Linked DNA regions of Homo sapiens: region 2 is linked to region 1. The links come from fine-mapping of genetic effects on gene expression. A gene starts in region 1. The other region holds a variant in brackets. All regions are shown on one strand. Distances are from middle to middle.

Region 1 (5,369 bases):
GGGGGGAATTGAACCCAGAGGCCCTCAGGCTGGCAAAGTGGGACCAGGGTGCCGTGCACGGCTGAGAAGGCTCCTGTGGCAGCAGAACCGGGAGAACGGGAAGGGCTCTCCATCCATCCCTGAGCATCTCCCGGAGTGAGGATGGACGGCACGACAGGCCCACCCTGGAGGAAGCGCCTCTCCCCTTGGGGGCACCAGGATCCCAATCCTCTGTCATTCGCACACCCCTGGCTCCAGGGAGAACTCAGGAGCCTTCATGGGCCTCGTCCTCTGACAGGGACAGCACTGATGAGTCACCATCTGTGGGAGGCACCGCGTCCGGAATTCAACCCCGGGAGCTGGAACGTTCTTTCCATGCAGACTTCTGCTCACATCCCTGTTCCTCTCTCCTGCTGGACACCCCACAGGAACGCGCTCAAGGATGACACTGCAGGGAGCTGCTCCGGGGGAGGGCCTGGCCCACTCTGGGACATGTGTGACCTTTGAACCCCTGTGCCTGCAGCCGTGGCTCCTTCCTGCCTCTGCTGCAGATACCGAGGCCGGGGCATCCCAAATCCTGAACTCCAGGGGTGGGAATTGAGGCCTTTATCAGGAAAACTCATCCTAAGAAAACTGCAGTGGGTTCCTGGGTCCCAGTGGCTTCTCCCATGGGGAAGAGGGTGCAGGAGGCCGAGGGAGGAGGGAGGGCAGGTGGAGGCATGGGTTGCAGGGTGAGGGTGCGGGACCCACCCACGAGCTTCACCCCTCGGACCGGCTTCCCGTGCAGCTCGCCCTCACAGTAAAAGATGTAGTGGTCCTTCACGTGCGACCTGATGATGTATGCCACGTGCTTGCCCCCGTCTGCAGAAAGACAGCAGCACATTCCTGAATTAGCCACCAGGGACTTCAGAGAGGATCCCGGGACAGCGTGCGTTGCCAGGCCCAGCAAGCCCCGCAGCTCCTGCACCCTCCCAGCCTCCCAGAGCTCCCTGACCCAGGTTCCCCACCAGGCCTGAGCCCCAGGCCATGGGACCCCCACTTCCCAGGAACCTGATGTACCCAAGAGGCGGCCACATCCCAAACCAGTGAGTCACGGGGGGTTCCTCCGGGTATGAGGTCTGCGGAGGTGGGAGTTGGGGTACAGCCCCCCGCAGCCAAATACGACTCTGCTCCTGGCCCTGCCAGAGCCACAGCCAGGGCTACAGGGCAAGCCCAGAGGGTCCGCCCCGGGACAAACCTGCCACACCTGGTGTTTGGGGTCAGGTGTTCAAGTCTCTAATGCAAATTGACCAGTGGGAGAAGAGAGTGGGCTTTTAGTGGAGTCAGAAGGCAGCAAAAGGCTTCCCAGGCCAAAAGGCCACCCCAAAAAGGCACTGGCTGCCCCCGCACATCCAGCGTGTGTTCAAGCTCAGGCTCTGGCTCAGGCCCCGGGACTCACCGGCCGTGTATTTTCCCGGCTCGTCAGTTTTCTCCAGGACGGCCTTCACCTCCTGGCACCGGCCACTTATCCTGGAAAACAGAAGCCCCCTGGCAAAGCGGCCCTGGCCTGTGCCTCCCCCGGCCCTGGAGCAACCATGCTGCAATGCCCTGCAAATGTGGCCCCGAGTCTGCCACAGGCCCATGGAGGAGGGTGCTTCTCTGCATCTCAGACCCAGGCACCAGCGGCCCCTCCGGGTCCCATGCGGCAGTTCCCGGGGTCTCCCGAGATGGCCAGGAGCTCTGCACCGCTCCTCCTGGTGGCTGCCTTCCCAAACCCCCCGCCCCCAACACATTTCCTGCCAGAGGCACCCAGGCTGCCTGGTTTGCAGGCAGCGTCTGTGGCGTGGGCCTGAGCCTCATCCCGCCAGCTGCATTCTTCCTTTTAGAGACATTCAGGCACAAGCCCCATATCCATCATCATCTGGCCCAGAGAGGGAAAGGTTCAGTGAGGGGCTTTGGGGGAAAAAAAAATCGGGGTCATTGCCAGGGTCAGTGACTTCCTGAGATTCAGCCCCCAGGACCGGAGCACAGGCACTGCATGCCACTCAGGAGGGAGCCATGCGGGTGAAATCACACAGGTGGGAAGTCACAGATGTGAGCCACGCGGGTGGAAGCAGCCCAGGTGAGAGCCGCACAGGTGAGCGCTACACAGGGATTTCAAGGGGGTCTTCTCCATGGTGTCTTCTCCTATGCCCCCTCTTGGTCATTCTGCAAGCCCCATCCCTGCACTTCTCCAAAGCAGAAATTTACTGCCAGGACTGGCTCTGACTCTGGTCGGGGGTAAACACCTTTTCCCAAAGGGGCCTGCACGTCACCAGACATTCCCTAGTCGGAGGAGGAAGTGGGCGGTACCCAGGGCTGCCACTGGTAGCCCACAGGGTCTGATCCGGGGCCTCTGCCCCCTCAGGGCCCCTCCAGCCGAGGCACCTCAGTGGCACAGTTTGCCCTCAAGCATTGCAGGAGGGGCCGAGAGAGGCCTCCCAGCAGGTCTGCCCACCTCCCCAGCACCAGAGCTCTCCTGGGTGGGGAAAGGGAAGGCCCTAGACCAGGTTGCAGGCTGCCCGGCCGGCTGGCAGACACTCACAGCATGGTGACCTTGGCTTCCAGGTTGCCCCCTTCCAGGGTCGTGAGGGTCATGGGTGTCACCGATTCCAGATTCATCTCAGGGAACTCCCTGTCCACCGTCATGGCCTTCAGATACCACGTCCCTGACACCTGGAGAAGGCCCCTCTCTATCAGGCTCAGGCCGACTGCTCCAGAGCCTCCCCCTTCCCTGGCCTGCAGCCCCTAGACTCTACCGCACCCCGAGGGCTGGAAACGGGGAACGTTCCCCAATCTAACCCACCCAGAAAACACCCAGCACCCTCGCCAGGCCCACTTGAAGGTGGCTCCAGCCCCCACAAGCCAGCCAGGACCACAGGAGCCCTCATCCCCAGGGAAGAAGTGAAGTCAGCCAGACCCCCACCCTCCCAGCCCTGCCCACTCTGCACCCCTGCGCCACCTACCCTGCCAGCCCAGACCCCTGCTGCCCCATCCCACCATTCCCTCAGGGCAGGGCTTGAATGCCCAACCCAAAAACGAGGGTCTCCTTGGATGGAGGAGGCATGGGGTCTCCATCCAGTCTCAGCCTCGCCCCTTGCCCCCTCCAGCCCAGCCTTCCCATCCGGGCCTCACATCCTGAATCTCCTCGTCTGAGGCCAGGAGGTGGTGGGCCTGCAGGGCAGCAATGAGGCCAAGGCTGACGGCCAGGAGCAGGGGCTTCATCTCCGGAGTCTGAGTCCACGGCCGCCTGACAGGTCGCTTGCTGGGGCTGGGAGAGGCTGTACCAGTCCTCCCACAGCCGCCCTTTATACCGCTGGGCTCAGGGTCCCCCAGGGACCTGGCACAGGAGACTGACCAATCCCTTCCTGGATGTAAACCACTGCCAGTTCTGCAATGGAGCAGATAACCTGCCATTATTGTTGGAGGCTGGTGAATAACAGCTTGTTAATCCCAGAGGATCACTTGGACAGGACCAGGTCCAGAGGAGCAGATTTGCAGATTTCACCTGAAGGGAAACTGAAGGGAGTGAAGGGTGTGCAGGCCTCCTGGGGACGTGTGCAGCCGTAACAGATGCCCCCCAGCCATCCCACACTTGCTGACGTGCACACTGTCAAGGGGGTTTGGGGTTGGAGTCCGAGGGCCGTGGGCTTGGGGCTCAGCTGAGCTTCCTGCATCTCTGGGCAGGTTACTTGGCCTCAGATTCATCATGGAAAAAAAGGGACCCTCCTGTGTGAACACGATCCCGTGTGCATTTAAAGACGGTGTCCACTGTCCTGAGCAAGGTGTGCAGTAACGACCCTCTCTGCTCCACACACAGAGCAGCAATAGGTCAGACAGACAGAAGACCAAGACAGGTGTGTGTGTGTGTATGCATGTGTGTACATATATACATGCACAAACGCACACACACTCACATAAAACAAGGAATGGAGGAGAAGCACAGGCTGGTGATGGGGCAGAGGCAGGGGCCTGTCAGCTCCAAGTCCCAAGGCAGGCAGAGAGGGCCTAGGTCCGGCTCCTGGGAGTGATGGGAGGGGCTTCCCTGACTCCAGAAAGAAGGCTGAGAAACCCTCCTTGACACATCCCAGGGCTGTAACTTCGTATAACTTAGTGGAGCACTGTGGGCATAGGAAGGCAAGAGGACATCAACACAGCCTCAAGGGCAGAAGCTGAGACAAGCCGTCCTTGGAAAGGATGACTTTATCTGTGACATGCTCTGCATCACTGCAGAGCAGAAGCCTGGGACCCGGGATGGGAGCAGAGGCTACAAAACACTGCTAGACAGAGGACAGTGACAACAAGATGGCAGAGAAAGGCAGAAATGCAGAGACACAATATCCTCACCTTGAAATAAGCTAGAAAGGCCAGGTTCCAAATTACCCAAGGAAACACCACACTAAGAAAGGCAGGCTAAAAATGAGCAATTGGTACAGGAACTTACACCAGCCAAGGAAAGTCTGACACACACTTTAAAACTGCAGGAGTATGATCAAGATGCCTAGTGATTTAAAAATATATAAAGTATAAAATTAGAACTGGCCAGAATATAAGAAATAAGGAGAGACGAAATAGAAATAATTACAAATCTTGAAGATGAATAATAAAGTGAATAAAAAACTCAATAGACAGGTTAAATTCCAGACTTGACATAGTAGAAAAGAGACTTAGTGTCATGGAAGATAGTACTAACAAAATCAATGAAAGCAGAAAAATTCAAAAGAGAAATTGAGGTGTTACAGATAGATTCAGTCTCCAGCCTGGAGCTAGTAATAAAATGAGTGGAGGAAACCAACTAGAGTGCAGCAGCTCTGAAAACACAACACACAGAGATATACACACACACATGCACACACACGCACACACACATGCACACACACACATGTGCACACATACAAATGCACACAAACCCATACACATGCACACCCACATACACACGCAGACATACACGCGTGCACACACCATTCATTCATACATACATGCACATACATGCACACATACACACACACATGCACACTCACACACATACACACATGCACACACATGCACAAAGTTAACACACATGGAGAATAGATCAGGAGGTTCCAATATAAACAGAATAGGAGTTCTGAAAGAAAAACATTTTCTAAAATGGCAACAAAGCAACAGAATAGCTCAGAATTCTTCAGAATTGAAAAGACATGAAGATGACACCCCAGATCTAAATTACCAAGGAATGATCAAAATTGAGAAATCCACTCCTAGAATATTACAGTGAAATGCAGATCATCCAGGAAAGGAGAAAAAAAGTCAAAATGACCAGAAAGAAGAGCCACACTACATACCATAAAAGCGGATGTGGACTGATGGCAGACCTCTCAATAGCAACGCTG
Region 2 (5,369 bases), 25 kb after region 1:
CCCCGCAAGACCCCCAAGGTCCTAGCTACAGAAATCAAGAAGATCGAGTGGTCATCCGGGGCCCGCGCTGTCATCGCCCGCCAGTGAGCGGCGACCGTGCTCCCTAGAGCCTCATACAAGGAAGTGGGGATAAGGGCAGTGGGGGGCAGGGCCGTGGGGGGAGAAAGCCCAGTTGTGGTCTCAGCTCCACTGATTTGTGTCGGGTGAGTCTCCTCTCCTCTCTACCCTGAAACTCCGCTGCGGGGCGTGAGCACAGCAGCACCTCCACTGTCTTGCTGTAGACTCAGCCAGCTCTGAGCTGCCACAGGGCATTGCAGGCTAAGAAGTAGTAAGAAACTCAATTCCTGTAGGCAGGTGCAAACATCTTGCCGTGCTCATCACACATTTGGTCCCTCAACAGTCCTCTAGGGCAGGGTCTGTTAGTATCCTCATTCTCGCATTGAGATGACTGGGATGTAGAAGGAACAACTTGGCCAAGATCTAGGAGTATAAAGTAAAGCTATGTCGTGGGCCTGCAGCCTCTCAGTAGCCTGTCCTACTGACAGGTAGGGGCAGTGGTACCAGTAGAAGCATAGCCTCAGTGAGGGTGGGGGCTCAGAGGCAGAGGGACCCTCTGGGTGGCAGGGTCTGGAGGCCAAGCCTCCGCTCCTGACAAGCTAGGTTACCCAGAAATTGCAGCATGTGCCGAGGCCCTGCCAGGGCTGGGGATCAGCACTTGCTGGCTGCCTGCTCTTTAGGGCTTTGGCCTGCCTTGGAAGAGCAGGGACAGTGGCAAGCAGAGGGGGCCGGGGAGGCCGGGCCATTCAGAACGGTCATCAGCCAGGTACTCCCAGAGGCTGCCTTCGAGGCCACATCACCAGCCCGGGCATATTGCTCTTTCCATGGGGGCATTTCCAGGGGAGTGCCGTCAACCAAATACAAGGCTGTGGCTTGTGCAGAATTAGAGTAAATGAATGAAAATAGAGTGTTTCTCATCTACCAGGACCCAGAAGGCTGTCTCCGTGTACAGGACCAGTAACCAGGCTTACGGGAGCAGAGCCCCCACCGTGCACGAGATGCCTGTAAGTGGGATGCAAGACCGGGCATGGGGGGCAGGGGGTGGGTGGCCTCAAGAAGAGGCTAAAAACCTGGGGTTCTCAACAGGTCAACAATGAGACGGGGAGGGGTGCACCCAGGGAGGAGGCCAAAGTTCCAGCATCACAAATGGGGAGGAGGGAGGTTCCCAAAATCGCTTTGGGAGAGGGTAGGATGGAACTAAATGAGTGAATGAATTTGGGAGTGGAGTGTTTTAAAAGAGGAGGATATAGACTTGCTGACATCACCCTGCCCCCATACACCCAACCACACGCACAGCAGTCTCACACACACACACGCAACCATCTCCTGCAACTTACGGTGCTCAGTTCTGAGGCAAATAAATGAAGGGCTACTTTTTTTTTGGAATTGTACTTTATGAGATGTTAACGTGTAACCTGAAGAGGCAGTACTGGCTGACGGCACAGCTTGTGGGTGGGCAAGTTGTATTGGTGGGCACAGGAGTCTGTGGGCCATTGGGGAAGCCAAACCCTTTTTGAGCTTGACCTTAGGCTCCAGGATGGCCCTCCTAGAACCTCCCCACACCAAACCCCATGAAGGTCCAGGTGAATGGACAGAGGGACTAGTGCGGTGTCTCCTGCACACCTGGGACACTGGGCCAGCCATTCTGGGGTGAGAATGTTGTGGACGTATTTTCGTTGTCAAAGCATTCATCACTGAAAAGGTCTGGTGAGTGCTTATTTAGTTGTGTGGCGTGAGTGACTGAGCCCTTGTGAGAAGATTACTTATCTAAAAATGCTGGAGCATTTGAGAATCACTCTCCCGTAATCAGACGACCCTGAGTTTTCCCTGGGGATCAGGTATTTCTATGAAAAAGACCAGACACAGCTGGATGCGGTGGCTCACGCCTGTAATCCCAGCACTTTGGGAGGCTGAGGTGAGAGGATCACTTGAGGCTCAGAGATCAAGACCAGCCTGGGCAACGTAATGAGACCCCCATCCCTGTAAAAATAAAATAAAATAATTAGCTGGGTGTGGTGGCATGCACCTGTAGTCCCAGCTATTCAGGAGGCTGAGGGTGGAGGATTGCTTGAGCCCAGGAGGTTGAGGCTGCAGTCAGCCTTGATCATGCCATTGCATTCCACCCTGGGTGAGAGCCAGACCCTGTTACCAAAACAAACAAGCAAACAAACAAAAACCAAAAAAAAAAGAAAAAAAAACCCAGCACACTCACTAACATGGGTCCAGATGTTTTAGGTTTTATAAAAGGCCATGAAAAAATGTTCCTATTGTAAATGGTAGGAGCCTTCAGGTCACTGATGGGAGCAGGCAGTGGGGTAGGAGGCATGAGGTACTACTGACAAGTTTCCAAGGAGGTTCTCCTCCTTCTTATCCACCTGCTCCGTCTGGAGTCTCTTTTCCAGTTTCGTGACCAAGGGTGGATGCCGGAGAAGCTGTTTACCTCCCATGTGGGAATAGAAGATAAATGCTTTGCATTAAAAAGTGCACTGAAAGGCTGGGCGTGGTGGCTCACGCCTGTAATCCCAGCACTTTGGGAGGCCGAGGCGGGTGGATCACCTGAGGTCAGGAGTTTGAGACCAGCCTGGCCAACATGGCGAAACCCCGTCTCTACTAAAAATACAAAAAGTAGCCGGGCATAGTGGTGGGCGCCTGTAATCCCAGCTGCTTGGGAGGCTGAGGCAGGAGAATTGCTTGAACCCAGAGGCGAAGGTTGCAGTGAGCTGAGATGGCGCCATTGCACGCCGGCGTGGGTGACTAGAGCAAAAACTCCATCTCAAAAAAAAAAAAAAAAAAA[T/AT]GCACTGAAGGGAATTCCTCTCCATGATACTGCATGGGCGGATCCCTGTGATGATACATTTGTCCCACCCATAGAATGTAGACTTTAGTTACTAATAAAGTATCAACACTGGCTCCACCGTAAAAAGTGTGCTACACAAGTGCGACATGCTAAGGACAGGGGGAACTGTGTTTGCTGAGGGAGGTAATTTGGGAACTCTCCGTACTTTCTGTTCAATTTTTCTATAGATCTAAAACTTCTCAAAAACAAAGAAAAGTTTTCTCTTTGCACTTGTTTCTTGCCAAGGAGATGAAACATCAGGTGATGTGCGTGGCACAGGATCCTCTAAGGACAGGTCACCCGTATGGGGTAAAATATTTGGCGGAGGTCCAGACCACTCGCTTCAGGAATGTCACAGTCACCTAATGATGCTGTCTTGCTAGAATAACTCCTACCACTGGGTGCCCGCCCACACGAGTGGCCTCAGCACACCCCTTCTCAATGGAGTTTTGCTCTTGTTGCCCAGGCAGGACTGCAATGGCACAATCTCGGCTCACTGCAAGCTCCGCCTCCCCGGTTCAAGCAATTCTCCTGCCTCAGCCTCCCGAGTAGCTGGGATTACATGCGCCCGCCACCACACCTGGCTAATATTTTTGTATTTTTAGTAGAGACGGCATTTCACTATGTTGGCCAGGCTGGTCTCGAACTCCTGACCTGAGGCGATCCACCTGCCTCAGCCTCCCAGAGTGCTGGGATTACAGGCGTGAGCCACCGCACCCAGCCCCAGTTAAGGTTGAAACCCACTGACATGGATATCATTTCTATTCCATAGAAGAGAAAACTGAAGTTCAGAGAGGGCTGGCAGCTTTCCCAGAGTAGCACAGTGAGCAAAAGCAGACCTGGGGGTGACTCCAGGACTGACCCCCAAGGCGATGCTCACAGCCACATCCTGAGGTAGAGATGGCACACAGGTGGCCCCACAGCTCATTCTTCTATCCTTAGAACAGTGCCGGGGGCAGTGTTAACAGCAAGTGCCAGGCATCGGGCATGGATTAGGATGGTCTGGGGTGAGCCAGGCCATCCTACCCACTCTGGCTTCTCTGCATTTTCTTATGAATTCTTATTTTTCTTTCAAAAATATTCAACGGATTGCTCAAGAGTATTATACGTCATTAATCCGTGTTCCTTTATCTCTTATAGAAAGTATTTTATCCAAATTCGAATAAATTTTCCCAACAACTTGCAGCGGGTGGAATGTTCCGGAACAATACTCTCAATGTTTACCTGGAGAAAAGCATCGTGACTGGCCCCGATAACTGCATCACCTCCTGTGACCGGCTCAACTTCCACCCCAGTTACAACATCAACAGGCCATCCATCTGCGATTGAGGGGCTGGAAACTCCCTCTAGGAGTCCTCTGACCCCAGGGCCTCCTGGAAAATCATCATCCCTCATCACCCACAGTCGCCCGATTGTGACGGCACAGACTGCGCTGCCTTCCCTGAAAATATTATTCGTCTGCGGAGTAGGAAAATATGCAAACGGGGCCGTGAAGTCCTGCCATTTCACATCTAATAAGTACATGGGAAAGATGCTAATGGTTGACTTTGCATTAAAAACGTTGTCACATCCTGAGCTTCCGTCTCGTCTGACGTTTGTCATGGTGGAGTGGGGCTGTGGGCTCCCGGGGCCCAAGTCCTGGCCTGAGCATCGGGAGCGCTGGTGGCTAACTCCGCTCGTGTCTGTATTTGGGAGCCATGTTACACACAAGACCAGTTAGGGAGCAGATCTCCCGTCCTAAAGCACCCAGCACCCTGGCTGAGATCTGCACAAACACTGCGGGGTTCCCACGAGGGCATGAGATGCCCCACTGGGGTGTGGGCGAGGGCCAGGCGCTGGGCAGGAGGAGGAGCAGATGCCTCGTCAGCCAAGTCGAGGCTGAACAGGCAGGAGGGGCCGTTACTGTGTGAGATTACTGGAGGAGCACATGGGGTTGCAGATGAACCTCCTCCACCATGTTTGTGTGCTTCATGCTCCAGCAAGGGGCAGGGGCAGGGACAGGGGCAGAGACAAGGTTGGTGAATGCCCTTCATTGTGGAAGGGGATGATGCAGACATGGGCATTCTCTATGTTTATTTTAAAATTTCAATAAAAAGTAAAAAAAAAGGCAGGGGATTACCTGTATTTTGCTAAGGGGGGTAATAACTACATGAAGTGGATTTTTATCTCTATGTAGTCATAAATCCATGTTTACTATGAGCTACAGGGTCTTCAATAAAAAAAAATTTGTCTATGACATGGATTTTTTTTCCCTCTATGAGAGCAAGATGTGTTCATTATAGGAAATTTAGAAAGTACTGAAACTAGAAAAAAGAAACTCCTCTTACACACCATCAATAATATCTTGTTAATAGATTCTTACCTGCAGGGATTCTACTCACGAATTAGGGAAGAAGTTAAACATCATGATGGGTTATTTCTTCATATAAACGTTTTATTATTAATACACAAAAGTAAACATTTTGGCAACAGTCTTAAT

The links. PIP is the estimated chance that this variant, and not a neighbour inherited with it, causes the effect.
Region 2: its variant is fine-mapped to the expression of LCN1 in prefrontal cortex (ROSMAP, PIP 0.95).

Annotation. Positions count from the first base shown.
Region 1 is chr9:135,519,351-135,524,719 of GRCh38, reverse strand. It overlaps LCN1 (lipocalin 1), which reads right to left and starts at 3,280. Exons shown (of 7, transcript NM_002297.4): 1 at 3,133-3,280; 2 at 2,543-2,673; 3 at 1,418-1,488; 4 at 730-840. The coding sequence starts at 3,222. RefSeq lists an enhancer at 1-415.
Region 2 is chr9:135,494,277-135,499,645 of GRCh38, reverse strand. PIERCE1 (piercer of microtubule wall 1) reads left to right here. Exons shown (of 3, transcript NM_001048265.2): 2 at 983-1,061; 3 at 4,031-4,465. The coding sequence ends at 4,219. Among named protein-coding and RNA genes, the nearest start is that of PIERCE1, 2.9 kb to the left of the region's middle. The variant T/AT (reference allele first, on the strand shown) is at 2,852.